6 linked regions of the Homo sapiens genome follow. The protein of the gene in region 3 purifies or fractionates together with the protein of the main gene of each other region. This does not show direct contact. Each region holds a gene or a part of one and is shown on either strand. Other genes may lie near its edges.

Region 1 (5,053 bases), on a different chromosome or scaffold from region 3:
ACCCTGTGTGAGGCCAGGGAGTGCTCAGCAGATGGGGGCAGCAGGGGGTGTCAGCATGGGTGGGGGTTCCTGCCAAGGCAGGCAGCTGAGCTGGCCCCACCTCAGAGTGCAGGGGCCCTCAGCTTGATCTTTTCTGGGCTCCACTCTTGACTGATGGACCCATGGGGCACCCTGGCCCCACCCTGCCTGCCTTGCCCCAGCTCCTGCCCTTGCCCTGTAGGGCTCTGCGGCCTCCCCTGTGCCTGTGTGCCTGGCTCACTAGACCCTGGACCTGTGGTCCCTCAGCTCCACTCTAGTCCCCTTACTCTGTCCCTCTACTGCCTGGCGTCGCTCAGCTCCTCCCTGCCTGTCCGGCGCCCAGCATCCTGTGCCCATGACCTCACATCTGTCCCTCTGCCCGGGTCCCCCACTCACCTGTGTTTTGGTCCATCTTTGTCTGCTGACCCCACTATAGATTTTAAAAATACAAATATGCATGCACGTGGTTAAAAACTCGCTGATGTCAGATGGCTGGGATGAAAGGACTGCCTGCTGCCTTTCCTCTTGTAGTGCTCGGACACCTCTGCAGGCGAAGCTCCTTGTTTTTTTTTTTTGTTGTTGTTGTTGTTGTTTTTTCACTTCTTATTTTGAAATAATTATAGATTCACAGGAAGTTGCAAAAAAAAAAACAAAACAAAACCCGTGGGAGAGATCGCACGGACCCCTCCCCAGTTCCCCTGATTGCACACACAGGGCATATCTGGGGTCTCTGGATTTGTGTGTCTTACTTTGTGCGTCTGTGCACGCATGTGTATAACTGCAGTTTTATCACGTGTGAATATCTGTGGCCATTCTCAGGCCCACGCGGCTTCCTGCTCCTGCCCCTGAATGGGCACCCCCAACACCCCAAAACCTGTTCTCAGCTGTAAAATCGTGTCATTTCAGGAGTGTCATAGATGGATGCATCGGCCTGTCACTTTTTAGCCTTACCCTTTTCCCTCACCATAGTGCCCTCAGATCCACCCACTTCTGTCCATCTCCAGCTCCCTGTTCTTGCTGAGAAGTCCCACATGGTGTAGTGGCACCTTGATTCTCCCTTTCTGGCTGTTACCAGTATAGCTGGCTGCTGTGAGCTTTCGCTGCAGGTTTTGTGTGAGCTGCAGTCTTCGTTTCTCAGTGATCCATGCCCGGAAGTGAGAGGGCCAGGTCGTGGAGTAGTTGCTTGTTTGGTGTTGTGAGGACCTGCACCCTGTCTTCCAGAGGGCCACCCGTTTTGCCTCCCCACCAGCAGCATGCCAGTGACCTGGTTTCTCCTCATGCTGGCCAGTGTTCAGGTTCACCACTGCATCTGTCTGGGCCACATCGCCTGTGTTTCCCTGGTGGCGTGGTGACCTTTCCGCGGCACACCTGCGGCTGCCCCTCTGTGCTGTCCTTGCTGTTCCTCCCGTCATCTTAGCCCACGTGTGTAAATGACATATGTTCCCCTCCCTTGTGGGTGTTGTTTTTGATGTCCTGTGACCGCTGTCCTGGAGTGTGGGCCAGATTCACTGGCTGTCACAGCTGGCTATGCCCACCCTCCCTGCGGCAGGGTCCTCAGTGAGACCTGTGCCTACTGGTTCTGGGTGATGAGCGTGAACGTTCTCCGTGGCTGCTGGCACGTGGGCATGACCACAGGGTAGAGTGAGACTGCAGAGATGAGGGCAGCAGGCCCCTGCTTGGCACCTGAAGCCCTGGGCAACTGGCAAGGACTGAGCCCTCTCCTGGCTGGAAGGGGCTGGGCCACCTGCTCTTGGGCTTGTCTCTGGAAGGCCCTCTGGGGGTCTTACTACCTCCCTGTCTCAGCTCCCACCAGCCTGTGAAGCCCTGTGCAGTCCATACCTGCAATCAACCCCAGCCATGGAGGTGGCTGTACCCCAGGTGTCTCCACTTAGTGCCCCCCCCCCCGACATGCCCCACGCTGCCCAGCCTCTCCTCTTCCCACCATCCGTCTGGTCAGGGGTCATTCTTGTGGTGCCTGCCCAAATCCTCTGAGGAGGGCTGCCTGGAGTGCAGGTCAGAATGGCTCTGGGGCCCCGATTGGGTTCTGAGACTTGGCTTGGGGAGGCAGGTGGTGGGCATGGGCAGAGTGGGCCTCAGGCATGCTGTACCTCCCTGACAACCTCCTGGGCTCCTTGCTCCTCCCTCCTGCCCACCTTAGGACCCTTGGGCTCCTCGATGGCTTCCCTGGGCTGGAACAGGCAGGTCTGGTTCTCAGTGGCTGTGCACACCGTTCCCCTGCGGGGCCCTGCCCATCCCTGCTCCCACATCCAGCGGACTGTTGTCATTTCTGCCCTAGGCTCTGGGACTACTCCGGATGATGCCCTCGGGCAGGCTATTGCAGTTCTGCCAGTCCCTGGGCAAACAGGGTCTGTCTGCGCTGGCCCCTGTGAGCTCGTCTTTGCCTGCTTAGACGAGAGCTCCGGAGGCTCAGCTGCGCACGGCTGTGGGCAGGGCTTTCCATGCGCTGGTCCAGGTGTACCCTGCCTGGCCTGCTGTGCGTTGTCTGCACGCACCCTCGCATTGCTGTGGGCGCGGCACTCTGCGCTGGTCTCCAAGGTGCCCGCATCTAGCTGTGATGCGCGCCTTGGGAGGTGCTGCCTGGTGTGGCTGTGGGCGTGGCTCGCTGTGGGCGTGGCTCGCTGTGGGCGTGGCTCGCTGTGGGCGTGGCTCGCTGTGGGCGTGGCTCGCTGTGGGCGTGGCTCGCTGTGGGCGTGGCTCGCTGTGGGCGTGGCTCGCTGTGGGCGTGGCTCGCTGTGGGCGTGGCTCGCTGTGGGCGTGGCTCGCTGTGGGCGTGGCTCGCTGTGGGCGTGGCTCGCTGTGGGCGTGGCTCGCTGTGGGCGTGGCTCGCTGTGGGCGTGGCTCGCTGTGGGCGTGGCTCGCTGTGGGCGTGGCTCGCTGTGGGCGTGGCTCGCTGTGGGCGTGGCTCGCTGTGGGCGTGGCTCGCTGTGGGCGTGGCTCGCTGTGGGCGTGGCTCGCTGTGGGCGTGGCTCGCTGTGGGCGTGGCTCCCTGCGTGTGGTGACCTGGGCGCTTGCCTTAAAGGCGCAGCCCCTTGTGGCTGAGGGCAGAGCTCTTTGCGTTGGTCCACGGTGTGCTCCTCTGCCCGGGTAAGGCGCGCTCCCTCATGCAGCCCTTTCTGGCCCACTCAGTTGGTGAGCTGCCATGCGCCCCTGCCTCTCTCCCTGCAGGCTCCAGGAACACTCGGAGGTGTCTGGCTTCCTTCTGGAGTGTGACAGCTCGGTGCAGGGCGCGCTGCAGAAGCACCTCGCGCTATACAGGATCCGGCGGAAGGTCACGGTGGAGCCGCACCCGGAGCTGCGAGTGTGGGCGGTGTTGCCCAGTTCCCCTGAGGCCTGCGGGGCTGCATCGCTGCAGGAGAGGGCAGGGGCTGCCGCCATCCTCATCCGCGACCCGCGAACAGCACGCATGGGGTGGCGGCTCCTCACCCAGGATGAAGGCCCAGCCCTGGTGCCCGGGGGCCGGCTCGGGGACTTGTGGGATTATCACCAGCACCGATACCTGCAAGGTATGGGTGGGGTGGGCACGCTGGGCTGGATTGCACGGGTGGAGCTGGACGATGTTCAATTCTCGCTGGTTTCCCCCCTCCAATCCCTGCAGGCGTTCCTGAGGGGGTCCGAGACTTGCCTCCTGGGGTGGCCCTGCCCCTGGAGTCCAACCTGGCCTTCATGAACGGCGTGAGCTTCACCAAAGGCTGCTACATTGGCCAGGAGCTGACGGCCCGCACCCACCACATGGGCGTCATCCGCAAGCGCCTCTTCCCTGTCCGGTTCTTGGACCCCCTTCCCACCAGTGGCATCACCCCTGGTGCCACGGTGCTGACTGCCTCAGGACAGACTGTGGGCAAGTTCAGGGCTGGCCAGGGCAACGTGGGGCTGGCCCTGCTGTGGTCAGAGAAGATCAAGGGTCCTCTGCACATCAGAGCCTCTGAGGGTGCCCAGGTGGCCTTAGCCGCATCTGTGCCAGACTGGTGGCCTACAGTCTCCAAGTAGTCCGAAGCCTTGGCTGGCGCAGGCTGATGGGGAGGCTGGGGCCTGGGGCCTTTGGCCTCTGTCCAGGGTCTTCCCGTCCCATCTGTCTGCTGCGCCTACTGGGTGGGAGCCCTGGTTTCCATCTGGGAAAGTCCCCCTTGTAGGTGCCCTGCCTGGCCCCACCCATGCTCAGGGGCCCCAGGCACGTGGGTTGTTTTCTCCCTGGACTTCCTGTGGCCCCAGAGGAGCCCACCGTGTGAGTGCTGGGCTCCAGATGGCGCCGGGTCCCAATCGTGGCTCCACACAGGGTTGTCTGGGAGGACGGGACGGTGTCTCTGGCCAGCACTGGCAGCTTCCGGGCCTTGTACCCCACTCTGCCTGGCATGAGCCTCATGGGGGGTTGGTCCCTGTGCCTGGAAGCGGGGTGGTGTCCAGGGTCTGCAGGCTGGGGCTCGGGCTTTGGGAGTTGTTTCACTGTGCTTGCTTCCAGCATGTCTCAGGGTGGGGCTATGCGTGGTCTAGAGGGGTCTGGGGCATTGGATCAGGTGGCATGTGGGTGTCTACACATCGAGAAGCACACAGGGATGAGCCACTAGGTATCCCATGCTGGAGGCTTGTGGAAGGCTGTGCCCATCTCCCATGTTTCCCCACCTCTGTTCCTCCTCAGAGCCCTCCAGGAGCGTGGGGTGGGGGCCAGCGCAGGGCTCAGGAGCCAGCAGGGCAGAGTTCTGCCTGTGTGTGCTGGGTTTTGGCATAGCCTGTGTTTGCAGTGAGAGTGACTTGCTGTCAGTCACGGGGCACAGCCTCCTGTTCACCCACTGGCTTCCCCCTTCCCACTGAAGTGTGAGCTCTATGTTTCAGGGCATCTATTAAAGAGTGAGCCACAGGCAGCCCCTTGGGAGCTCTGGTTTCATTTGGGGGAGAGGGAGGTGGGGGCTTAGTTTTTGTGATCTGGCTGACTGGACCCCGGGAACAGCGCTCCTTTGAGAACGCCCAGACCTACCAGATGAAGCACTTGGCATGGCTGCAGGCCAGCAGGGGAGGCCTC
Region 2 (5,053 bases), on a different chromosome or scaffold from region 3:
CACATGTTAAAGTGTCAGGTGTGTTTTTTTCCCTTTAATTCTTCAGTATGTTTATATTCAATAACAGTATTGTAATTCATTGAGTTAACTAGTAAATTGTGTGCTTTTGAAAAAACATGAAAAATGTAAATTGACAGCATACTTCATTTGGAAAAAAGTAAAAGATCCGAGGAACTAGTATGTCACTTATTTATTTTTATTTTATTTTATTTTTTACTTTTTGAGACAGGGTCTTGCTCTGTCACCCAGGCTGGAGTGCAGTGGCATGGTCACAGCTCACTGCAGCCTTGACTTCCTGGGCTCAGGTGATTCTCCCACCTCAGCCTTCCAAGTAGCTGGGACTACAGGCATGCACCACATTGCCTGGCTAATTTTTTGTGGAGATGGGGTTTCGCCATGTTGTCCAGGCTGTTCTTGAACTCCTGGGCTCAGGCAATTTGCCTGCCTCATTCTCCCAAAGTGCTGGGATTATAGGCGTGAGCCACTGCGCCCAGCCTTACTTATTTTTAAATCAGATTTTTTAATCAACTAAAACAGCTATGAGTTAAGTACCTGCCCTGCAAAAATTTTTAGAAAAAGTTTTAGGATTATGAAATTAAGAATTATTTTCCTTAACTGGAACAGTTCTAAAATTTATCTGATACTTCTCTAACAAGTGAGTGATCTCATGTAACCCCAGTTTGTATCTTAAAGGCTGCAGCATAGAATTGAGCTGTATAACAGTGTTAGAACTGTCAAGTGATAATCACAGAACAGTTTGTATCGGTTTTATAATTCTCATGTCTTGATCAGATCTGAAGGAAATAGGCATACCCTCCAACATTCTAAAAATTATTTATTTTTATTAGGATTTGTTTATTAAAGTTCCACGAGCTGCTTTATGGTCAGTTGGGCTGAGTAGTAGATATCTTAAAGACATGCAGTGAAAGTGAACCCTGTCATATCATGGTGCCTCTTTCAAGGTTCCTCTGTAAGTTCCTCATCTTGCAGAATTATTTCAATACCAAGGTATGGTTGAACCAGCTGTCCAGCCTTAACTCTATTTAGTGCCCCATTACTAATGTTCTTTTAACTGGTTTGTATGTGTTTTAACTGTCCAGTGTTTGGATTTTACCTCTTGATAGCTCCATTTGTCCCTGGTGCTGCTTTTAAGGATGTAGGGCCATGTGATCAGGTATCAAGTTGAGTAGGTACGCAGTTGGCCTGGTGATGTATCTGTGCCTGTTTTATCTTCTCCCAGGAAGAGCTGCTTTGGTATAGTTGTTTACTTGGATTCATACAAAGAACAGGGCAGCAATCTTGGAAAGCTTTCTGAAGCTTATAAGAACCTGAAGGGGTTTGGAGGGGGAACAGTAACAAAGGCTGCCTTTATGTCTTTGGTCACAAAGCACATAGATGTATGTTCTGTAAAGACTAAAGTGATTGTTATACCAGGGCTTCCTGACCTTCGGGAGAGACTCAAAAAAGCAGAGAGGAGCACAAAGTGAAGTTAATTTGGTTGGCTTGCTTTATCTGGTTTCTCATTTTCTTTCAATTTAAACCTGAACATAACACCCTTCTCCGATACCTATCCAGCAGACTCCTGGTTGGGAAGCCCTGTATTAAATTTTGAGAATGTACACAGTTTTCTTTTGTACAGTGCTTTACAACTGCTAAAAGTTAACTTGTTTAAAGCAAAACAAGACCTTGAAAGGTCAATCATATTAAAGCTGGTTTGATTATTAATAGTTATCTTTTAGGAAGAAGCTTTTTTCCCTATGTAAGATGTCATACTGCAGATTTAAAATATAGACTATCAATAAAATGCATGAAGTGATCATTTGTGCTTGATCATCTCTCCTTGGGTTTTTCTTTAAAAAGGGGAATCTGCTATAAAGGTTCTGTTGCTTCAAACCAATGTCAAATAGACTTGATTTTTAGAGTCATGGAATTACAGTGCAACCTTGATTTTTATTCCCCTCACTGCTATGAGTGTGGGCAGGTACTGGTTTATATGTTATAACTTCCGTTTTATCTGTGTTGTGTAGTTGAATGGCTTAATCGTTGAGTGGTAAAATAAAAGATTATATTCCAATACAAGAATCCTGGAAAGATTTATGTGAATGACATTTTAAGTAGGCGCATCTTTGCTGTTTCTTGTATTCTCGCCATTGCTCTGACCACTCCCTTGCTTGCCCTGTATATATACAAAAACTTGTAGGTGTGCACGTGTGCTTGTACTTCTGTCTTCCATTTCTATCTTAATCTCTTAAACATATTGCTTAAGCCACTAAGATGTCCTTGTTTCAAGTAAATCGTCACATTGTGACACCTGGTGTATTGTATTATAGTTTCATTTCCTCTGGTGCCTGCAGAGCTATCTGTCATTGGCATCATAACTCGGTTTCTCAGGATAGTTTTGATGTAGTCAGCTCTTCAACTCATGACCTTCCCAAGGTTTTAAGTTTAGTGTCATTCATGATTTTATTATTTGAAACTCAATACCACCATCAAAAAGTTAGTGCTCTAGACAATGAAGCCAAAGCACAGGCATCTTAGGTCAGTGAAAAGGATCCAGACATAAATTAGCCAGGTGTGGTGGTACACAGCTGTGGTCCCAGCTACTTGGGAGGCTGAGGTGGTAGAATCACTTGAGCCCGGGAGGTCAAGGCTGCAGTGAGCCATGATCATGCTGATGCACTCCAGCCTGGGTTACAGAGCAAAACCTTGTCTCAAAAAAACCCCCAGATACCTAGAAGAAAGGATTCGATAAATCTGGGTGGATTATAAACTGAACTCTTAATGGTCATTTTAAAAAATAAGAAAGCAAGGGTCCAGTTTCTTTGAGGTCTTTGAATTTAGACAAGATTTAACTATAAGGCCTTGCATGGATTACTAACTATAATTAAATTAGCTAAACTTTTCTGGTTGCTGTCAGGCATTGTATTAAGTATTCTATATAAATTATTTAATCATCACAGTGACTGTGAGGTGAAAGTATACCACCCATTTTATAGGTAATGCAGCTGAGATACAGATGTTTGGTAATTTGCCCAGGTCACATAGTAAGTAGCAGATTATTTGCAATCATCTTTGATGCAGTCATCTTCCTTGTGCTCTTAATCCCACTACTATATGACTTCTAATTTGTTTCTTAGTATTTATCCCAAGCCCTAGACTAGATTGCTTATGAGGTGTGATTTCTTAGGAAAAACATCAGTTTTGGCTGGTTTGCCAAGAAAAAAAAAGGCCAAATTGGTTTTTGTTTATTTTTTTGTTTGTTTGAGATGGATTCTCGCCCTGTCGCCCAGGCTGGAGTGCAATGGTGCGATCTTGGCTCACTGCAACCTCTGCCTCTGGGTTCAAACGATTCTCCTGCCTCAGCCTCCCGAGTAGCTGGGATTACAGGCGCCCGCCACCACGCCCAGCTAATTTTTCTATTTTTAGTAGAGACAGGGTTTCACCATGTTGGCCAGGCTGGTCTTGAACCCCTGATCCCATGATCTGCCCGTCTCGGCCTCCCACAGTGGTGGTATTACAGGCGTGAGCCACCACGCCCGGCCGCAAATTGTTTTTTGTTTTTTTGTTTTTTGGAGGATTAATGGTAATATACTGTAAATTCAGTAAAGCACTGGGCATTACCAGATACACCTTAGCACTATGAATAACATGAACTATCATTTTAGCAGTTTAAGTGTACCTTGTAATCAGCCCTAGGGCAAACGGTATCAAGGTGTTTTATTTCCAGAAGTCTCAAAATAGACTGGAATAAAAATTTGGTGAATTCATCAACACAGACAATGGGTCCACGTCTTGCAGCTACAGCTGCTGCAGCTACTCCTGCTGTCCGCACCGTTCCACAGTATAAATATGCTGCGGGAGTTTGCAATCCTCAGCAACATCTTAATGCACAGCCACAAGTTACAGTGCAACAGCCTGCTATTCATGTACAAGGTCAGGAACCTTTGACTGTTTCCATGTTGGCATCTGCCCCTCAAGAGCAAAAGCAAATGTTGGGTGAATGGCTGTTTCCTCTTATTCAAGCCATGCACCCTACTCTTGCCGGTAAAATCACTGGCGTGTTGTTGGAGATTGATAATTCAGAACTTCTTCATATGCTCAAGTCTCCAGAGTCACTCCATTCTAAGGTTGATGAAGCTGTAGCTGTACTACAAGCCCACCAAGCTAAAGAGACTGCCCAGAAAGCAGTTAACAGTGCCACCGGTGTTCCAACTGTTTAAAATTGATCAGGGACCACGAAAAGAAACTTGTGCTTCACCAAAGAAAAATATCTAAACATCGAAAAACTTAAATATGGAAAAAAATATCAAAATATAAAAGAAGGAAACTGAACCGTATGTACCGAGCAAATGCCAGGTCTAGCAAACATAATGCTAGTCCTAGATTAATTGATTGAAAAACAAAAAACACAAAAAAAATAGTAAAATATAGAAACAAATTAGTGTTTTATAGACCCTGGGAAAAAGAATTTTCAGCAAAGTACAAAAATATAAAACATTCCTTTCTTTAATTTTGTAATTCTTTACTGTGGAATAGCTCAAAATGTCACTTCTGTTTTAAGTAACAGAATTAATAACTGAGCAAGGAAACGTAATTTGGATTATAAAATTCTTGCTTTAATAAAAATTCCTCTTTAACAGTGAAAACAAAAACAAAAATTGGGGAATTGTTAAATGGTCATCTCAGCCCCTTATTACGTGTGCTCTTGGCCCCAATTATGACAATTTGAAATATGAAATGACTAGAAAGATTCAAATTGCAGCTTTTTAAAAACTATGCCCTGCCGGGTGCAGTGGCTCACATCTGTAATCCCATCACTTTGGGAGGCCGAGGCAGGCAGACCACGAGGTCAAGAGATCGAGACCATCCTGGCCAGCATGGTGAAACCCCGCCTCTACTAAAAATACAAAAAGTAGCTGGATGTGGTGGCATGCGCCTGTAGTCCCAGCTACTCGGGAGGCTGAAGCAGGAAAATCGCTTGAACCTGGGAGGCGGAGGTTGCAGTGAGCCGAGATAGCGCCACTGCACTCCAGCCTGGTGACAGAGTGAGACT
Region 3 (4,387 bases):
GCTGCATTGATTTCCCCTTTTTGTGTGTCTATTATCTTTGCATTTATTCAAGTATGAGTTACAGTACATACTAGTTATAGTATATATATATATATATAATATATATGTATTAGTTATAGCTAATATTAAAGGAATAAGGTCTAACATTCCTTTTTAATTTGATCTGCCCATGCTGACTTCATGTATCTAAATTGTGGAAGGTTACAGAAAACAGTGTAAATTAAGTACATAATTTTAATTAGACCAAATCTAAAAGACTAAAATTTACTGCTATCTTTATAACAAAATATAAATTAGATGTTTTTGTCAGGTCCAAAGATATATATATACAGCATCCAAATTTTCTTGACAATGTATATTCTTTGCATGTATATATATATGCAAACTTGGATGTTGTTTTCTAATGTGCGAATGAGTGCTTCATCTAGAGTTTGATGTTTGCACAGCTTTGTAATAGGAGGTACTTTATAATCACTAATTATTCACCTACACAATCCCTGCAAGATAGGTCAAATATTATCCATATTTTACAGATGAGGCATCTGAGACGGGGAGATCAAGTGACTCACCCAGGGTCACACAGCAAGTCATTGGCAGAACAGGGATTGGAACTGAGTTCCTGATTCCCAATCCTGTCCTTGGTCTGCTTGGCCACTCTACCTGTATGTAGTATAAGTTTTCAAATCATGTTTGTGACAAGCTTCTGACACACCAACAAAAAGATTAGAAAACAAATAGGATGAACTGTTAAAATGACAGTAATATACAGCAGCTATAAAGCAAAGTATGGATGTCATTAAGTCACAGAAATATGTTTTGAAGTTAATCAGGAGCTAAAATTATAAGCTGCATAGCAAGGTCCTGTTAGAAAGGAAACAGACAAAAGGAGAATGCTGGCAAAGTGAGATGGAGTCTGAGCCGCCAGGCATCCGAGCCTGATTGAGGCCATGGAGGTGGGTCATGGCACCTTGCCCAAGCACTTCTGCTCTAATGACATGAGTACATGAAGTTCTTTGTGAAAAATAGGGCCGATTGTATTTAACTTAATAACTTGAATTATATTCTTTGTGTATAACTTTTCAGAGAAGGCAGTTTTGCTTTGGGGACTGAAAAGCCCGAGTTGTAGTTTCAATGTCAATTTATTTCATCAACACTAGAAACTAATATATTAACTAAAATAAAGATGCCAAAAAATGTATTTCACGTTACAATGTATCTTTAGCACTTTCTTAGGAATGAGTAGATTCATGACACAAGATTATCTGATCTAGTAATATATTCTATTCCTATATTTAATGTGTTTTAGAGGCAACTACCATTTAAGGATAATAAAGTTGTTTCTTTTGGCTCCTTAAATAGCTTATGGCTTTTATTTTGGAAGAACATAATTACACTCATGTGTATCAGCCAGTGAATGTGTAAAAATAATTTTATACACTTTGGAAGAAGACAGTCGTCTGTATCTGTTTCTTTTAAATTATACAGCATCAGAATTTCTCTTGGTACAAAAAAGAAATTAACCACCAAGGAGTGCCTTAATGTCCACAGTGAGCCCTTGGTAATGAGTTAGGGTTTTTGTTGATATGTCCAAAATACTTTTTAAGTATGTTTCATTGTAAATTAATCAGAATAAAATTTTTCTTGCTATTCACCTGCCAGTATATATTTCTGTGATCACTGCCACTGCATATACAGTATCTGGTTAGTTTGATCTTTCAACGTCTCTTTTACTTTTCTTTCTGTCCTGACATCCTTTTTAATTTTTTTCTCCATGATTTTTCATGCTGTACAGAATGCACTCATGAATTGCATTTCAGGAATATTTAATACCATAATAGCAAGTTTTGTTGACAAACATTCAAATTGGTTTCAGCTCTAGAAATTCAATACTTAAATTAGAAGGAGACACATGTTCCTCAGAACATAATAGCTATATTCCTTTTATAGCTCTCCGTTTCATTAGGCAGCATGAGCATCTGAGAACCTCAGTATTAAAGCAGTAGGACCTGTATAAATTATATGTAAATATGATAATTAAGCATTTCTTTCCGATGGTATAGATCCGTTGAAGAATGTTTTTTTTCTTAGAAACAATCTATGTGTTTTAGGATTCACATGATCTTGAATTTTTTAAAAATCACCTGGCCAGCTAGCAATTAAATATCGTTTACAAATTTACTTTCACATTAATCAGTAAGCAGATATTCCTTCTCATTTCTAGCAAAATAAAATTACATGTCAAGTTTCATCTGAAACTATGTAATACCTTATTTGCTAGCCTCTAAAAATTGTTTTCATTCCACATAAGAATTTGCTAAGACTGTTGCTTGACCTTGGTGGCTTTATTTTGTTCAACAGGTCATGTACGTAGAAGGGACTGCAGTTGTGATGGGTTTTGAAGATCCCATGCTACAGACAGATGACACTCCTATTAAACGCTGTCTGCAAACCAAATGGCCATACATTGAGTTACTCTGGACCACAGATCGCTCTCCTTCACTAAATTAATTTGTCTAAGTATTTATAAGGAAGATCTTAATAACAGATGTTGAAAGAAGGAGTCAAGACTGGCAATTGGCTGGATTAAGCTAAACACTGGTATCACTGATTAACTGTAAATAACAATTAAAAACACATTTTCAGTGTTTATGATATGTTTAAATTATTTGTCCTAAAGCTTTATGTTAAAGATTATCCTATTTTACCCCTTCGTGTGAAATTTACTAGCAAAATTAAGCTTTCATCAAAGTTCATCACTTTTGCATTCAGATACTTGGTCATTTACTTACCAAATTACAAACGCAATACTACAGCATTTGTATATTAAGTATCACAGTTACTATTGATAAACTACTTTTGGGTTTTATTTCATTGAGGCACTTTTTTTATTGTTTGAATGATTCCGGCTTGTAATATATCAGCCTCTACAATGAAATGCAGAAGAGTTCATTTTTCTAAGATCTGTTTTTCATTAGAAATATTGACAAATAACACATTGTCAACCTGGATCCTTTGACAATTTACTTAACTCTGGCATGTTCACAAAAAGTAGAAACTCTAAGAGACCATTACCATTTATTCACAGATGTATAGGGGATGTATTCTAAAAACTGACAGAAAAGAGAATCTGATAGTCAACACTGTTAACTTTTACTGTGTAATTGCCAAATACACTTTTCCAAATTTGTCCCAACAGCCCTGTAAGCCAGCTTTCTTCTATATTTATAAACACGATAAATGCATGAGAAGATCTGTTATTACATTAGTATATTACGTTATTTATTATGATCCTAGTTGATGGCCTAAATAAACACCTTTTTCTTTAACTGTACCCTTGCATTTTTTACATTGGTGGCTCAAAATAAACAAATACGTACTTCTAAATGTTTCTACCCAATAACCCTGAGAGCACAGAGTACTACAAATGGCTAAGTCATACAGGACCTCGAATAAGAGACCAGGCCTTATGCTAACCTAAGAGCTCTGCTAACTCAGCCAGCCAGAAGCATGAGAACCCACATGGCAGCTTTCTAGACCAGTGAGCAAAGATGCAGAAGCCCGTTTACTTGAGAGAGAGATCTGCTGTATTCTGATAGGTTTGTGGCCCAGCAATTTAAAATCACATAGCCATTAATACTTTTTTTCCTCCACGTGTAAAGCCACGTGTAAAGCAGATAATTATGTAGTATCCTCTTACACATTTCAGAACTGAACATTACCTTCAATAGTATAGTTCCTGTGTGAATTTCTGTTTGGGTTTTGTTTTCTTTCGTACACACACACAATTACAATATAATTAAGCATAGGGAAAGGCATGAGATTTTGTGTATAACTTTTGGTGACATTCTGTTCAGGAGTATGATACTACTTATTAAACTTACAGCTTTCAAATGTCAATATTTTGGTCTAGGCTACTTCCAAATCTGTATAAAATATATAATGCTAGAATTAGTTTCTCAAAACTCTGGTTTAATAATCCCAAATTCCAAAAGGATTACACAAAATCGTAGATTGTCTCATAAACATCAAGCCTATGAAATAGAATGGTCCTCTTACCATTGTTACACAACAAATCATCCCAAAACTTCATGGCATAAAACAACCATTTGATTAAATGTACAAATTCTTTGCTCAGGAATCTAAACGGGGCAAGGTGGGGATGCATGGCTTGTCTGCTTCAGTCAGCAGCCAGGGGCTAGAATTTTCTGAAGCTGTCTCTACTCACGTGGCAAGCATGACTGGACCTTAGCTTGATATCATTGCTGTAGAACACTACATTTAAATAGCCATGGGAACATTTCCTTTCCACATGCACTTGGGCTGCTTACCAAACTAGATTATATGCTGGCAATAAAGTAAGTCTAGAAAATCTCAAAAGATTGGAAAT
Region 4 (5,053 bases), on a different chromosome or scaffold from region 3:
GGCTGGCTAACGGCACGTGCTGCCCGAGGGGACTCCGACAGAGCCCAGACATCCCCAGGCTCACGGGGAACTTTGTACTCAGGCTCCTTTGACCTAAAGGGCCCACACTTCCTGAGTGCCCACTGTGTACCAGACACTGAGGCACACGGAGGCTAAGCCACTTGCTCAAGGTCACAGCAATTAAGAGGTAGAGCTGGGACTTAAGTCCCATCTGACTCTAGAACCGAAGCTCTAAACCTTTCTCTAAGCCTCAGTCTGCGCACCTATAGAATAGACACGATACCACCCATTAAACTGCCCTGAATCAAAATGAGATGATGTACAAGGAGCGGAGACCAGAAACTAGGATTAATCCTGAGATTTTAAAGGTGACAGGTTTTCCAGAGCATCTGGGAAATCCCATCTTCTCTCTATGGGGCCAACAGTACCCTCCTCAGTGAGCCAGAAAGCTCACTCTCATGGCTCTGCCCCTTCCCACTCCATGAAACGCCCGCCAACGGGGAAAGGCACAGACGGGAAGGGCTGCGGGGAACTTGTATGGGGTTTCACCAGAATCCAACCACCTCTGCTCTCCCCTCCCCTTCGTGGGACAGAAAAAATACCCCCATCCCTGCTCCTGATGAAGATGTCCCTAGGGAAGGAATGATGGCTAGAAAAGGTCTGAGAAAGGGACAGTTGTCCATCCTACCCCCGTTCAGGGCCTGTCTGCTGAGTAAGATGCCAGTGCTGAGTGGGTGGGAACCAGCAGAAGACCTGCACCCCGTGCCGGCTCACACCCCCACTCCAAGGCAGGCTCACCTGCTTGGTGAAGTCCTTGATGATGCTGTGCTCAGACACCTGGGAGCCAATGGCAAAGCGGCGCTTGAGCTGCTTCTCGATGCGGCTCAGCATCTCCTGGTCCTCCTGGCTGGTGAAGCCCTCCACCCCTGTGGGCATGGAGAAGTGAGGCAGCCGGGGAGCTGGGACAATGGGAGTTCTTGGACAGAGACAGCCTCTAGCCCAAGGAAGAACAGCCTGAGCCAGGCCCCGAAGAGTAAGTCAGAAAAGGGCACCGAGTGTGCCAGGGTGGTGCAGGCCTGATTGAGGAGACAGGATATGGCACATGTGGGGACACTCCAGGCCAAGCACAAAGTCACAGAGGCAGGAACACACCTGTCTCATTCAAAAAGCAGCCCGGGGCCCAGCGCAGCAGAGACATGGCCAGAGTGTCACTAGGGACCAAGTCCTGCGGGCCCTTGGAGGCCACAGCAGGACTCCTTTTGTTGCTGGAGCAGATAGATTAGAGAGAGAGTTGGAAGGGGCCCATCAGTGACCCAGGAGGGAAGCCAGCCTGCCCTGGACACATCTACGAGGTGCCCTGAGGAGCCCTCGGCAACCAGGAGGCTCGTGACTTCCAATTACTGCCACAGAGGCCTTGGTGTTTCAGCTAAGGAGATGGTGGGCTCATGGTCAAGAAGTCATTGAGAGGGGAGTCTGTGAGGCAAACTCCTACATAGCCCATAAGACCCAACTCAAATTATCACCACTCCATATCACCCCTGCCCTCTGTGCCTGCAGCATCCCAGAGGCCTCCACCTGCAATGTCTCATGTGACAGCAAGTGTCTCCAGGGTAGAGGCTGAGTCTTCACCAAGGGGGACAGGAGGAACAGGCCCCACCCACCCCATTCCTCACCCAAGTGCCTCCCCATTCAAATGCACCAAACCTGCTCCCTCCTGGGGAAACTGACACTTAGCGCTGCCTCCACCTGAGCAGCTCTTCCCCCAAGGAGCCACACTGTCCCCTTCATGCAGCTCCCTGCTTGGCATCACCTCCTTGCAGAGGCCATGCCCACTCACTCCATGGGAAAGAGCACGTCCTCCTTTTCCAACACACCTGGCCCTGCCATCATCTCCCTCACTGCCTTTTTCACTACCTACACTACCTGCATTTGTTTCTCTACTGTCTATCTCTCCCCAACTAGAACGAGAATGAGAACCCAGGAGGGCCGGGACCCTGTGATTGATTGCTCTTATACTCCCAGCACCTAGAACAGTGCCTGGCAAACAGTAACACTAATGAAGTATCTGCTGGGTGAAGGAACAGATTTTCCCCAGCGTAGGTAGCCTGGCTCATGATCGGTGCCTGGGACAGTCTGTTGAAAGGCTGACCGAAACCAGACAGTATGGCTTATGGTGTGGAAAACGCTGGCCTAGGGGCCAGGAGACTTGCATTCCAGCCAAGCGACTGTGATCTTGGGCACCAGGGAAAGGCCCCTTCGAGTGTCAGCTGTCTCATTTCTAACATGGGCAGGACTGACTGCTCACCTGGCTTCCAGGGGGCAGCTGTAAGGCAAAATGCAAGAAATAACTCTGGAAGCACTGAAAATGCTGACAAGCTCTAGGAAGCAGAGCATCAACTGTTGTTCCTAGCCAGTGAGAAGGGTTATCATCAATGACCTGGGTCAAGAGGATTGTGTTCAAGGGTCTGGAGAGAAGCTGCTTCTTCCCATCTTGGAGGAAACAGCGGTGGGGAGAAAGGAGGAGAGGGGTCTTATGGCAAAAAGAAACTCAGAGAAGCTCAGCAAACTCAGAGAAGCAAGACACACACTGCAGGCCCCCAGCAGGCCAGAGCCCTGCCCACAGAGCTCCGAGCCAGGGAACCCAGATCAATTGAGACCATGGCCCCTGCATCTGCTCACCTGACAGGGTACCGGACAAGGCAGCATCCAACGTGGACACTTGGAAGAGCCGCAGGGCCTCCTCCACATCTGCCTCTGTGGCGAAGGGCTGCAGCTTCATCTTGCTGAGGGCTTCCGCGATGCGCACAATGGCCTCCAGCTGCCTGTGGGGGCAACAGCGTGCTCAGGGTAGCCTCGGTCCGCTATTCCCTTCCTCCCCAGCCAGCCCGTTACCAGGGAGGTGCTTGCCCAAAGTGGTAAGACTGTGGTGGAGACTGCTAGGTGTCCCCATAATCCATCTCCCTTTTGATCTTAGTCATAGAACTGCAATTTTTTTTTTTTTTTTTTTTTTTTGAGACAAAGTCTCGCTCTGTGGACCAGGCTGGAATGTAGTGGCATGATCATAGCTCACTGCAGCCTCGAACTCCTGGGCTCCAGTGATCCTTCCACCTCAGCCACCTGAGGAGCTGGGTCTACAGGCATGCACCACAATGCCTGGCTAATTTTTTATTTTTTGTAGAAATGGGAGTCTTGCTATGTTGCCCAGGCTGGTCTCAAACTCCTGGCCTCAAGTAATCCTCCTGCCTCAGCCTCCCAAAGTGCTAGGATCACAATGTAGGCCACTGCACCTAGCTTGGAACCCCAGTTTTTAGTCTGGCACACAGCGATCCACTAAAACACATCCCAGACATCTTTTGTACCAGGTTGTATTTGTGTGACCAATCTATGGCAGTAAGTTGTAAGTCCAAGCATTGTGTGGGACTTCATGAAGTGTCCTTTAAAAGGGAAGCTCTCTTTCCTTCCTGTCCTGCTGCCTGGAGGTGATGGCTGAAGTTCTAGCGGCCATCTCGGACTAAGAGTAAGGGGGAGCTTGAGGAGTCCTCACACCAGTCCCCATACCATCTTCCTCCAGACAGTGCTACAGAAAAGAGAAATGAACTTCCTATTTCTTTAAGCTACTTTATCTGGATTTACCATTACTTATAGCCAAATCCATTTCCAACCAGTCAGTGCTGGAGACAGGATTCAAACCAGGTAAATCCCAACTCTTACCCACTGTATTGTCTACAAAGTCACAAGAATGAACAGAGTTAGGAGCTAAAAGCACTGAGGGCCAGAGAAGGAATGTAATTTCCCTACAGTCACACAGTGGGCTAGAGGCTGGGACCCAAGACTCTTGACTCCCAGGCCTGGGTCCTTCCCTCCCTTCGGGCTTCCTACAATGGGAGAAGCCAGGCCAAATTCAGACAAGAGGGGTCTAGGTTTGCCCGGCCTTAAATCAAGAAACATGGATCATCATTGAGATCAAGGAGGCCATAGTTTATGCTCCAAAGGGACTCTTCCTGCCCAGAGCTACTATGGGCCTGTGCCAAGTGAAAAGCCTGGACCACTGCCCCTGGTTGCCAAGCACACCCTGCTGTGTAAAGCAAGCCCCATCTGCCATGGCCCAGCCCTGCCCGCCTGCTCACCGCACAGTGATGGGGATGCTGGAGCGGCGGTCACTGTCCCTCTCGTGCTGACGGGCCCCGCTCCGCATGATGATGTAGCGGTTCTTCAGTTTCTCTGCAGCCTCTGCTGACAGCCGGGGGCCACACTTCCTGCAGGACAGTGGGGAGAGGCTGGTGTGAGGCCAGGAGGGACTCTTAGGGCACCTACCCTTTCCCCCAGCCCCCTGCCAGCTTACAGACATGCACTTTCCCACCACACCACAGCTGCCCACTCATATGGGCTGGGGGACAACAATCGGAAAAGATTTAAGTGAAATCTGGCTGTGGGCAGCTGCCACAAACATCAACACTGGGGAGAAATATGGGTGCCTCTCTTAAAAAACAGGTGAAGAAAAGCCAGGCACGTCTGCAGGGTGAAAACCGCCTCTTCCCCACTGTTAGACGCTGTGTGGTGTCTTGCCACAAGGTCCCCCATACATGTAATGAACAATGGCACAATCACAGCGGCATGGAGGCCCACTGGGTGGTGGGCTTTGCAGCAGTCTCAAACTCCTCCACCCAACACATCTGAAGACACGACAAGCTGATGACACCCACAGGAGGCTTGGCGGTGACTGCAGTCCAGGGGCTGGGAGCACCTCAGACTCTCCTGGGACGGTAGGTGTGGGGAAGTCTGATCAGCATCTACCCTATCCCATCCCCTCCCCTCTAGCCCCCAGGCCAACTGACAGTCACTGATGTAGGGAAAGCCTTAGCTCAACCATCCTAAGGATGTGGAGACTGAGACCCAGAGGGAGGGAGGGAACTCCCCAAGGCTACCTGGGGACTTAGTGCAGAGGGAAGATTAGAATCCAGGGCTCCCTGACTCACAGCTGTGGGCCCAAGCCTCTCAAGACTGGGCCACACAGAGCTCAGACTTGGATGAAGACCCAGGGACTACCCACTCA
Region 5 (4,669 bases), on a different chromosome or scaffold from region 3:
CTGTACAGTACAGATAATATTACTGCTATTACAGAATCAGCAAGTTGAATGCATGCTTCAGGGAATAGGGAAATGAATGCGGACTTTTTCTAACTGATTTAGATGGTCTGTCTGACCTCTCTAGAAAAATATGTGTGTATGTATATTTTGAAATATATAAGGAATGTTAAGTCTTTCTCTTCCCCTTTTTAGCCTTAGATTGTAAGCAAAAGAAATCAAGGTCAAGATCTGGAAGCAAGAAGAAAATGCTAACATTACCTCATGGTGCTGACGAGGTTTACATTCTCCGATGCAGGTATATGCCTATATTGCCAAATCTGATCAGTTTCTTCATACTTTGCTTTGAAACATATTAGCTATTTCATTTGGGATTTTTAATTTGTGGCAGAGTGCATTCTCAACAATCAAGTTATAAATGAACTTTTGGAGATAGGCTTAAAATCTTAATTCAGCTCACAATATCCGTACTTCAACAACTAATGAATCAAGTTTTTTACATTAGCCAATAGTAATGTAAATCTATTATACTGTGATTTATTAAAGTAGCTTGGCCAGGTGTGGTGGCTCATGCCTGTAATTCCAGCACTTTGGGTGGCCAAGATGGGTGGATCACTTGAGGCCAGGAGTTCAAGAGCAGCCTGGCCAACATGATGAAACCTCGTGTCTACTAAAAATACCAAAATTAGCCAGGCTTTGTAGCGGGTGCCTGTAATCCCAGCTACTTGGGAGGCTGAGGCAGGAGAATTGCTTGAGCCCAGGAGGCAGAGGTTGCAGTGGGCCGAGATCGTGCCACTGCACTCCAGCCTGAGCGACAGAGCAAGACTCTGTCTCAGAAAAAAGAAAAAAAAACTGGCTTTCCTTGTGTTTATTTGGTTTGTATGGTTTAATTTTGTTTGGTTTGATGTTTTGTTGTCTTGAGTTCTCGCTTATTGGGAACACATTTTCTCTCCCCTCATAGTCACGCCTTCTTCCGTACTCACACTCACACACAACACACATGAAGAAACATAGACACAATGCCATTTAAGGAATGCTAAACTGGGGAAGGGTCTTTTCTAAAGAATGACATATTTTGGAGTAATAGTTGTTGTTTCAAGTGAATTAAGATGTGTAGATGTTAATTTTAAAATAATAATGCTCCCACCTATACAAAGATTACTGGAGTTTATTATAGCTGTTAATAAACATATGAATTGGGAGTTTTGATGTTTTATTAAATCATTTGACTTTAGAAACTTTATCAATTGCTGTCTTTAAAATATGATAAAGTTTATTCCTTATGTTTTAGGATTTTGTGTGAATTAGTTTTAAAGAAAGAGAATTGGTCATGTTAAGAGAATTGTTATCTTTCTGTAGGTTTTGTGGCCTAGTCTTTCGAGGACCCTTGTCTGTTCAGGAAGACTGGATTAAGCACTTACAACGACATATTGTAAACGCTAATCTTCCACGGACTGGAGCTGGCATGGTGGAAGTCACGTCACTACTTAAAAAGCCTGCCTCCATTACAGAAACTTCATTTTCTCTACTAATGGCCGAAGCAGCTTCATAGAACCAGGAAACCTTTTAAATAGCCAGTTTGAATTGGATGTAAATTTGAAATTCTTTTTTTTTAAGCCACATTAAATTATCTGTTTATAAATACTAAAGCAGGAAAATGGGGGGAAAGTGAATTACAGTGACATCAGAGCAAATTGAATACTTAAAACAGTAAGTAGTCTATATATTTTATATAGGGTGGAAGATGTGTTTTTAAGGTTTATGAAGTTTTGTTGGTTAACTGTGTTCACTCAGTAAAAGAGCAGTACATGTAAGCAGCCATTAATAAACTGTTGCACATGGATACTTATAGACAGACTTATTGGACAATTATGTTTTTTGCAGTGTTACCAGAATCAAGGCTCTGTTTATTCCCCACAAGACTTGCATAGAAAAATAAGATATTATATTTTGTTTGTATGTATTTAGTGTTTTGTATAATACCAAGAACCGCTGACTAAATTTACTCAAATTAGGGCATTAAATATCATGTACTTCATAGTTTGAGACTGTTCACTCAAATAGGGCAGAGTACTATTCTATCTAGATGTGTAAGTGTTTTTTTTAAAATCACATGGAACGGTTTTTTTTATACTAAAAAGTGGAGGGAGATTTGTTTAAACAAGTATTTCTAAAAGAAATATGTACATAGTTCTGGAAATTATTTGTGGTAAGGAAATATTCTTTACTCCAGTTGCATTTCTCAGACAATAAAGTGGTGCATCCATGCTACCTCCTACTTTGTCAACAAAGATGCTATTTACCCTTTACATTTTTGTATCATAATAGATTTTAAAAATCTAATGTTCTTTATTGCAAGACATTCTTTTGTTAACAGGTTTGTTTCTTTTTAATGTTTTACCTAAAATTTGACATGCTTACAGGACAGGTTTGCCTCTTACTTTATTTAACATTGTAGAAATGTAATTAATAAACAATGCTCACTACACAGTTTAGAATAGACGTTCTCATTTATATTATCTTCCAAATTTGATCAGTTAGCAAAACTTAATACACCAATTAAAATATTTCTACATATGAGAATGTTTACAATTTAAATTTTAGAACTTGTTTTGGATGTGATTATATGTACGAAAATCGTGTAACACTATGCTCATGCTAAGAACCGACATAACAGAATTACTGAAATAAATGTGCTGTGAGGAATGGAAAATATGGTGCAGGTGTCTTGGTCATGATAAATTGTGATTCTTTTTAAAAATTTTTTCCAAAAACAATTAGGTATTTTAATCTGAAATCAGATTCCTTTACAAACAACAAGTTTTTGTATGCAAGCACCATTTTATTTCATGTAGTATGGCTAATACTATAGTTGAACCAAGGATATGCATTGATTCTTTGCTTCGTATGTAAATAAAGTTAAAAACAGTTAAAATAAGGAGTATTTTGGTAGAGTATATACATACCTCACTGCCAGTGAAATTGCTTTCCTATGGTATATCTCCTTACCAGAAAAATCTCTAAATAAAAAAAGGTTTAAAGAAAATTAAAATGTGAAACATTTCTTATTTTTATCATTGGTGGTAATAGTTCACTTCAGGTTGTGTTTCATTGGATTTAAATTGTTTATCCTTGCCAGGTTACTTGGATCACAGAGCATAGTTTTTCTAGAATCACCTCATTGGTCAATATAATGTATGTGAGAAAAATCATTTTCCCCCTTTCATGATTAATCAAACCTCTAAATTCAGAGCCATCTTATATGCAAAATTAGAAGGTTGGACTAGTTGGATCATTCCCAACCAAGGGTCTCCTGATCCTTAGGTTAATAGATAAGGGAATAGTACTTGTAAGTTATTTTCAATTTTACAAAAGTCCCGATAAAAACTATGTATTTGTCTATAGTGACAAAACTAACTAAAACATCCCATTTCTTTACTTTTGACTGAAAATATACCAAGTCTGTATATATTGGTTATCTCTTACTGAACAAGTTTCGTTGATAGTTATATGTCTTTGAATATATATTTTTAAATTGGAAGACATACTACATAGCAAGTGGAGTCCAGAAGTAAAAACCAAACAAACAAACAAAAATCATAGGAATCTTGTGGGAAGGCTAGTAATCACTAGAGCCCCTTTCCACTCTAATTCTTTTTTTTTTTCTTTAAAGACAGAGTTTTACTCTGTCACCCAGGCTGGAGTGCAATGGTGTGATCATATCTCACTGCAGACTCAACCTCTCAGGACTCAAGTGATCCTCCCACTTCAGCCTCCCAAGTAGCTGGAATTAAAAGCACATGTCATCACTCTTGGCTAGTTTTTGTATTTTTCGTAGAGACAGAGTTTTACCATGTTGCCCAGGCTGTGCTTGAACTCCTGGGCTCAAGAGATCCTTCCGCCTCCGCCTCTCAAAGTGTTGAGATTACAGGCATGAGCCACCACACCTGGCCTCCTAATTCTTACACTTCTATGATTTTGTCTTATCAGGCCAAATATCAACATGTGTGAATACAAGTAGAAGAATTAGTTTGACCACAAGTTTCGGAATCAAAACTACATTTAATTTTAAAATATGTTGAACTATATGTAAACAATTATTTCTCCTTCTAGTTATATAAAGAATTCAGTCATCAGAATAAAATATTTCACATCAGAAACAGTAGACTAGAGTGACTCCTGAAAAGTAAATTAAGCAAAGAGCATTTTTCATAGTAAAGATATTTGGGTTACAAAATTTAAAGAATTCTTTAGGAAGCATTCAAAATTCGTCTTTTATTTGGCAACTAGAAAATTAATAATATGTTTTCATTTGGTTCCCACTAGAAGAAAAGTATAAAATATTGTCTCAATTTACATGATAGATTTTTATGTCAGCATATGGCCTGATTTATCATTCAGTATTGACTAATTTTCTTTTAATTCTTTTACCATTGCCTGAGATATGCAAGCTTCTAATGCTAAATTAGGGCTTTAAAAAATTCCAGTCTGGGCCAGGCGCAGTGGCTCACGCCTGTAATCCCAGCACTTTGGGAGGCCGAGGCGGGCGGATCGCGAAGTCGGGAGATCGAGACCATCCTGGCTAACACAGTGAAACCCCGTCTCTACTAAAAATACAAAAAAATTAGCAGGCGTTGCTGCGTGCGCCTCTAGTCCCAGCTGCTGGGGAGGC
Region 6 (4,314 bases), on a different chromosome or scaffold from region 3:
CAGAACTTCTCTTGGTTGTGCATTCCAGCATTGTATTGGCCTAATGAATTAGTTTCCCAAAGCCACAGCTGTGATTTAATAACAGCAGAATGTAGGCAAAGCAGGAGTCCTCTGAATAGGCAAGTGCCCTTTTCCTCACTTCCATCTTAGGAGGGGATGTCACACCAGGTGGTTTAGAAGAAGCAGTGATGGGCTGGGCACAGTGGCTCATGCCTGTAATCCCAGCACTTTGGGAGGCCCAAGCAGATGGATCACTTGAGGTCAGAAGTTCGAGACCAGCCTGGCCGACATGGCAAAACCCTGTCTCTAGTAAAAATACAAAAATTAGCTGGGTGTGGTGGTGCGTGTCTGTAATTCTAGCTACTTGGAAGACTGAGGTTTGAGAATCACTTGAGCCCAGGAGGCAGAGGTTGCAATGAGCCGTGATCGTGCCACTGCACTCCAGCCTGGTTGACAGAGTGAGATTCTGTCTCAAAAAAGAAAAAAAAAAAAAAGCAGCAGCAGCAGTGATGACACAGGAGAAGCAGTCAGGGGGTAGCCTGATGAGAAAGTCTTGCTTTCACAGTTTTTTCTCTGTCTTATCTCTTCCGCATCTTATTCCCTTTTGATAATAGAAGGTCCAATGCATGTCATTCCACATCTGTGTTCCTGTTTTCAACTTTTCCCTATTAAAAAAAAAAAGGAGGAGAATGAAAAACCTTGTATAACCAAATTATTTACTATTAGTTAATTTAGAGTGATGAGATTGGAAAGGGGCATGAAGATTATCTTTTTCTCTTTATACAATTCTGAATTGTTTGACTTATTACAAATAGATATGTTACTTTTGTAAATAACCAAACAAGAAAAGAAATGGCTATGATAGCCTAGTTTTAATGAGTTACAAAGCAGATGACTTCACCTGTACTGAAGAAATGTGTGCTTGGCTGTACAGGGATGTACATGTTACCTCTACTACAGCCCCACCCAATTTAGGCCCCTTCTGCTCTGCAGCCCCACTCTGCAGTGCACACAAGGAAGGAAGACTGCATTTAGAGTCAGATTAAAACAAGCCCTGAGCACTGGCTGGAGTGTCAGTTCCCCAAGAATATTCACCCATCCCCAGAGGCTGGCAGATAGTATTAGAGTTGCTCAGTCTTTGTGGAAAGAGTGAATTACTGTTGCAAAACAGAAATGACTTTTCTTCCAAATAGTCATCCAAACTTCCAAGCAAATCACCGTAAGATAGTATGATGCTCATTATTCGAGTATTCAGACATAACAATTGTTGCACATGGCAATATGCAATTACTTTTGGAAACTTCTGGTAGCTTAGCAAGATAAGGGGTGAGCTACTCTGTTACTTGTTTATTTCCGAGTGTCCACTTGTGAGTCCTCACATGCCCTGTCTCAAAAACAAAAGTTAACAAGGAGCTTCTTGCCAGTGGTGTCTGCTGCTCTTTCCTTACTAGAGTGTTATATATCTGACCTACCGTTTGTGGACTAGCCTGGGAACTAATTATCATTTATAACATTACATCTTTGAATAAAAGAGTACCAAGTATCAAACAACCAACTTATAAACAAATATTATGAATATAACAGCCTTGCAATTTAATAACTTTTTACAGTTTTGAATATTAGAGACCCATCACTTTGATGGATTTATTTGCCCTTCAGTTATTACCAAGTGATTCTGAAAAGTCCAGGGGTTACTAATAAGTGCTGATTTGACTGCTCCTCCCTGCCAGGCTAGTATGGAGGAGAAAGACTTTTCACTCTTGAAGGAACACACCATGCTCTTCTCCGTACATCTTTGCACTCTCTGGTTTTGGTTTTATGTTTACAAATGCCTGTGATATGGGGGGAAAAAGAATCTTTGTTTAAGAAAAAAAATCAGCCATGTGCTAATCAGGTGATAGAAGAGAAAGAGATCTAAGGCGGCACTGATCTAAGCCAGAGGTGGGACATTTAGGATAAAGTTAAAAGCAGAACATGGGCTGGGCACAGTGGCTCACATCTGTAATCCCAGCACTATGAGAGGCCGAGGCAGGCGGATCATGAAGTCAGGAGATCGAGACCACCCTGGCTAACACAGTGAAACCCCATCTCTACTAAAAATACAAAAAATTAGCCTGGCGTGGTGGCATGCGCCTGTAGTCCCAGCTACTTCGGAGGCTGAGGCAGGAGAATCGCTTGAACCTGGGAGACGGAGGTTGCAGTGAGCCGAGATCGCTCCACTGCACTCCAGCCTCAAAAAAAAAAAAAAAAAAAAAAAAGCAGAATATGAAAGACTAAGTACAGTTCAAATGCAGTGGTGACTTTGATTTATAGCAAGAACAAGTTTTCCATTTGCTCTATATGGAAACGTAAAGAGATTTTGAAACTGCTTTAACAAGGGCTGCCACAAGAATTTCTTTTATTGACTTGAAAAATTACTCCTACATTCATGATGTCACAAAATCGTATGTATTTTTCAGTCATGGTTTCATGCATTTTTATTCTATAAACATACATTATAAGTATACAAATATAGATTATATTCTATAAATAATTCAAGGATTTATAACATATCTAAAGATACATTCCTTATAAATATCAGGGATTTTTCTGTATAAATTACTTGTTTGTTTATTATTATTATTATTATTTTGAGATGGAGTCTAGCTTTGTCACCAGGCTGGAGTGCAGTGGCGTGATCTCGGCTCACTGCAACCTCCGCCTCCCGGGTTCAAGTGATTCTCCTGCCTCAGCCTCCCGAGTAGCTGGGATTACAGGCACACACTGCCACGCCCAGCTAGATTTTGTATTTTTAGTACAGACGGGGTTTCACCATGTTGGCCAGGATGGTCTGACCTCGTGATCTACCCACCTCAGCCTCCCAAAAGTGCTGGGATTACAGGCGTGAGCCACCCCACCTGGCCTATAAACTATTTATTTATTAGCACTGTGCTAGTGGTTTAAAAAGAAAACAAAAACAGATATGGTCCCCGCCTTGCAGAGCTTGCTGCCTAATTGTCTGGTCACCGAGTGGCCTGACTTCATGGATGGCTGCTGCGGAGTAGCAGTTGAGGAGCGAAGAGGTCTTACAGAACACCCACAGGCCGCATCCAGAAGCCTCACTCATTCTCCCTGATCTCAGAATGTCCTTTTCTTTTCAGCTATGCCTCCAACAAAGCAAGTAAAGCTGCTTCCGTCCTTCTGTATTCTCTGTGGGCACACACGGAACTGCATCATGCCTACAAGAAGGTAAGAACATGAACAAGGAATGTGTCATAGTTAACAGAGCCAGGTAATAATGGCCCACTTGACTTGACCCTGGGAAGAAATCGCTAAAAAACTGCATTTTCTTGTGTGCCAGTTTTGTTACCTTTCACGTTTCTGTTTGCTTATTCCAAAGGCTCAGTTTAAGAAGACAGATTTTGTCAACAGCCGGACTGCCAAAGCCTACCACTCCCTTAAAGACTGAGGAAAATGACAAAGTATTCTCGGCTGCAAAAATCCCCAAAGGAAAACACCTATTTTTCTACTACCCAGCCCAAGAAACCTCAAAAGCATGCCTTGTTTCTATCCTTCTCTATTTCCGTGGTCCCCTGAATCCAGAAAACAAATAGAACATAATTTTATGAGTCTTCCAGAAGACCTTTGCAAGTTTGCCACCAGTAGATACCGGCCACAGGCTCGACAAATAGTGGTCTTTGTTATTAGGGCTTATGGTACATGGCTTCCTGGAATCAAAATGTGAATTCATGTGGAAGGGACATTAATCCAATAAATAAGGAAAGAAGCTGTTGCATTACTGGGATTTTAAAAGTTTGATTTACATTTATATTCCTTTTCTGGTTCCCATGTTTTGTCACTCATGTGCACATTGCTTCGCCATTGGGCCTCCAGTGTATTGTTCTGCAGTGTTGAAACAGAATGGAAATGACAAGAAATATCTGCAGTTATCCAGGAGAAAGTATAATGGCAAAATTATTGGTTTCTTTCTTTACTTTGTGCTTGTTTTTATCCCCTTGGGTTGTTTTTCTCTGATTTTTAAATAAACTTAAGAAATTTAGATTACAGAGTATGCATGACTGTAAGAAAAAGAAATTGAGAGGAAGTGATCATAGCAAATTAAAGAAGTCTTTTCCTCCCAGAACTTAAAGTAAAATAAAAAATAAATAAATAAATAAAATCTTTTCCACAGAGAAAGGCAACTGTGATGATAAAATTTAACGTTCCCCCAAACACTGAGTCAATGAGATTTTTCTCAGGAGATACTTTACCTATAACAACGCCGTTAAATCCAAATCTCTTCTAAACGATGGCATTCTATGTAATGCCTTTCCT

The links.
Region 1: the proteins of MINDY3 (region 3) and IBA57 purify together in Homo sapiens (affinity purification with mass spectrometry, with the first as the bait; one large-scale study listed by BioGRID). This does not show direct contact.
Region 2: the proteins of MINDY3 (region 3) and RLIM purify together in Homo sapiens (co-immunoprecipitation; one large-scale study listed by IntAct). This does not show direct contact.
Region 4: the proteins of MINDY3 (region 3) and MCM5 purify together in Homo sapiens (affinity purification with mass spectrometry, with the first as the bait; one large-scale study listed by BioGRID). This does not show direct contact.
Region 5: the proteins of MINDY3 (region 3) and ZNF644 purify together in Homo sapiens (affinity purification with mass spectrometry; 3 studies listed by BioGRID and IntAct, with this or other methods). This does not show direct contact.
Region 6: the proteins of MINDY3 (region 3) and PKP2 purify together in Homo sapiens (affinity purification with mass spectrometry; 2 studies listed by BioGRID and IntAct, with this or other methods). This does not show direct contact.

What each region holds. Positions count from the first base shown.
Region 1 is NC_000001.11:228,171,488-228,176,540, forward strand, and holds part of IBA57 (iron-sulfur cluster assembly factor IBA57, mitochondrial isoform 1 precursor), read left to right. Parts: intron 1-3,082; exon of another isoform or gene 3,083-3,123; intron 3,124-3,204; coding exon 3,205-3,542; intron 3,543-3,634; coding exon 3,635-4,026; 3' UTR 4,027-5,053. UniProt on the Homo sapiens protein: Mitochondrial protein involved in the maturation of mitochondrial [4Fe-4S]-proteins in the late stage of the iron-sulfur cluster assembly pathway. Operates in cooperation with ISCA2 in the maturation of [4Fe-4S] proteins.
Region 2 is NC_000023.11:74,582,255-74,587,307, reverse strand, and holds the end of RLIM (E3 ubiquitin-protein ligase RLIM), read left to right. Parts: 3' UTR 1-4,332; downstream 4,333-5,053. UniProt on the Homo sapiens protein: E3 ubiquitin-protein ligase.
Region 3 is NC_000010.11:15,777,113-15,781,499, reverse strand, and holds the end of MINDY3 (ubiquitin carboxyl-terminal hydrolase MINDY-3), read left to right. Parts: intron 1-533; coding exon of another isoform or gene 534-623; exon of another isoform or gene 624-1,651; intron 1,652-2,358; coding exon 2,359-2,508; 3' UTR 2,509-3,326; downstream 3,327-4,387. UniProt on the Homo sapiens protein: Hydrolase that can remove 'Lys-48'-linked conjugated ubiquitin from proteins.
Region 4 is NC_000022.11:35,419,087-35,424,139, reverse strand, and holds part of MCM5 (DNA replication licensing factor MCM5), read right to left. Parts: intron 4,257-5,053; coding exon 4,128-4,256; intron 2,823-4,127; coding exon 2,680-2,822; intron 927-2,679; coding exon 799-926; intron 1-798. UniProt on the Homo sapiens protein: Acts as a component of the MCM2-7 complex (MCM complex) which is the replicative helicase essential for 'once per cell cycle' DNA replication initiation and elongation in eukaryotic cells.
Region 5 is NC_000001.11:90,913,678-90,918,346, reverse strand, and holds the end of ZNF644 (zinc finger protein 644), read left to right. Parts: intron 1-192; coding exon 193-295; intron 296-1,356; coding exon 1,357-1,549; 3' UTR 1,550-3,043; downstream 3,044-4,669.
Region 6 is NC_000012.12:32,791,558-32,795,871, reverse strand, and holds part of PKP2 (plakophilin-2), read left to right. Parts: intron 1-3,140; coding exon 3,141-3,228; intron 3,229-3,379; coding exon 3,380-3,448; coding exon of another isoform or gene 3,449-3,593; 3' UTR 3,594-4,314. UniProt on the Homo sapiens protein: A component of desmosome cell-cell junctions which are required for positive regulation of cellular adhesion.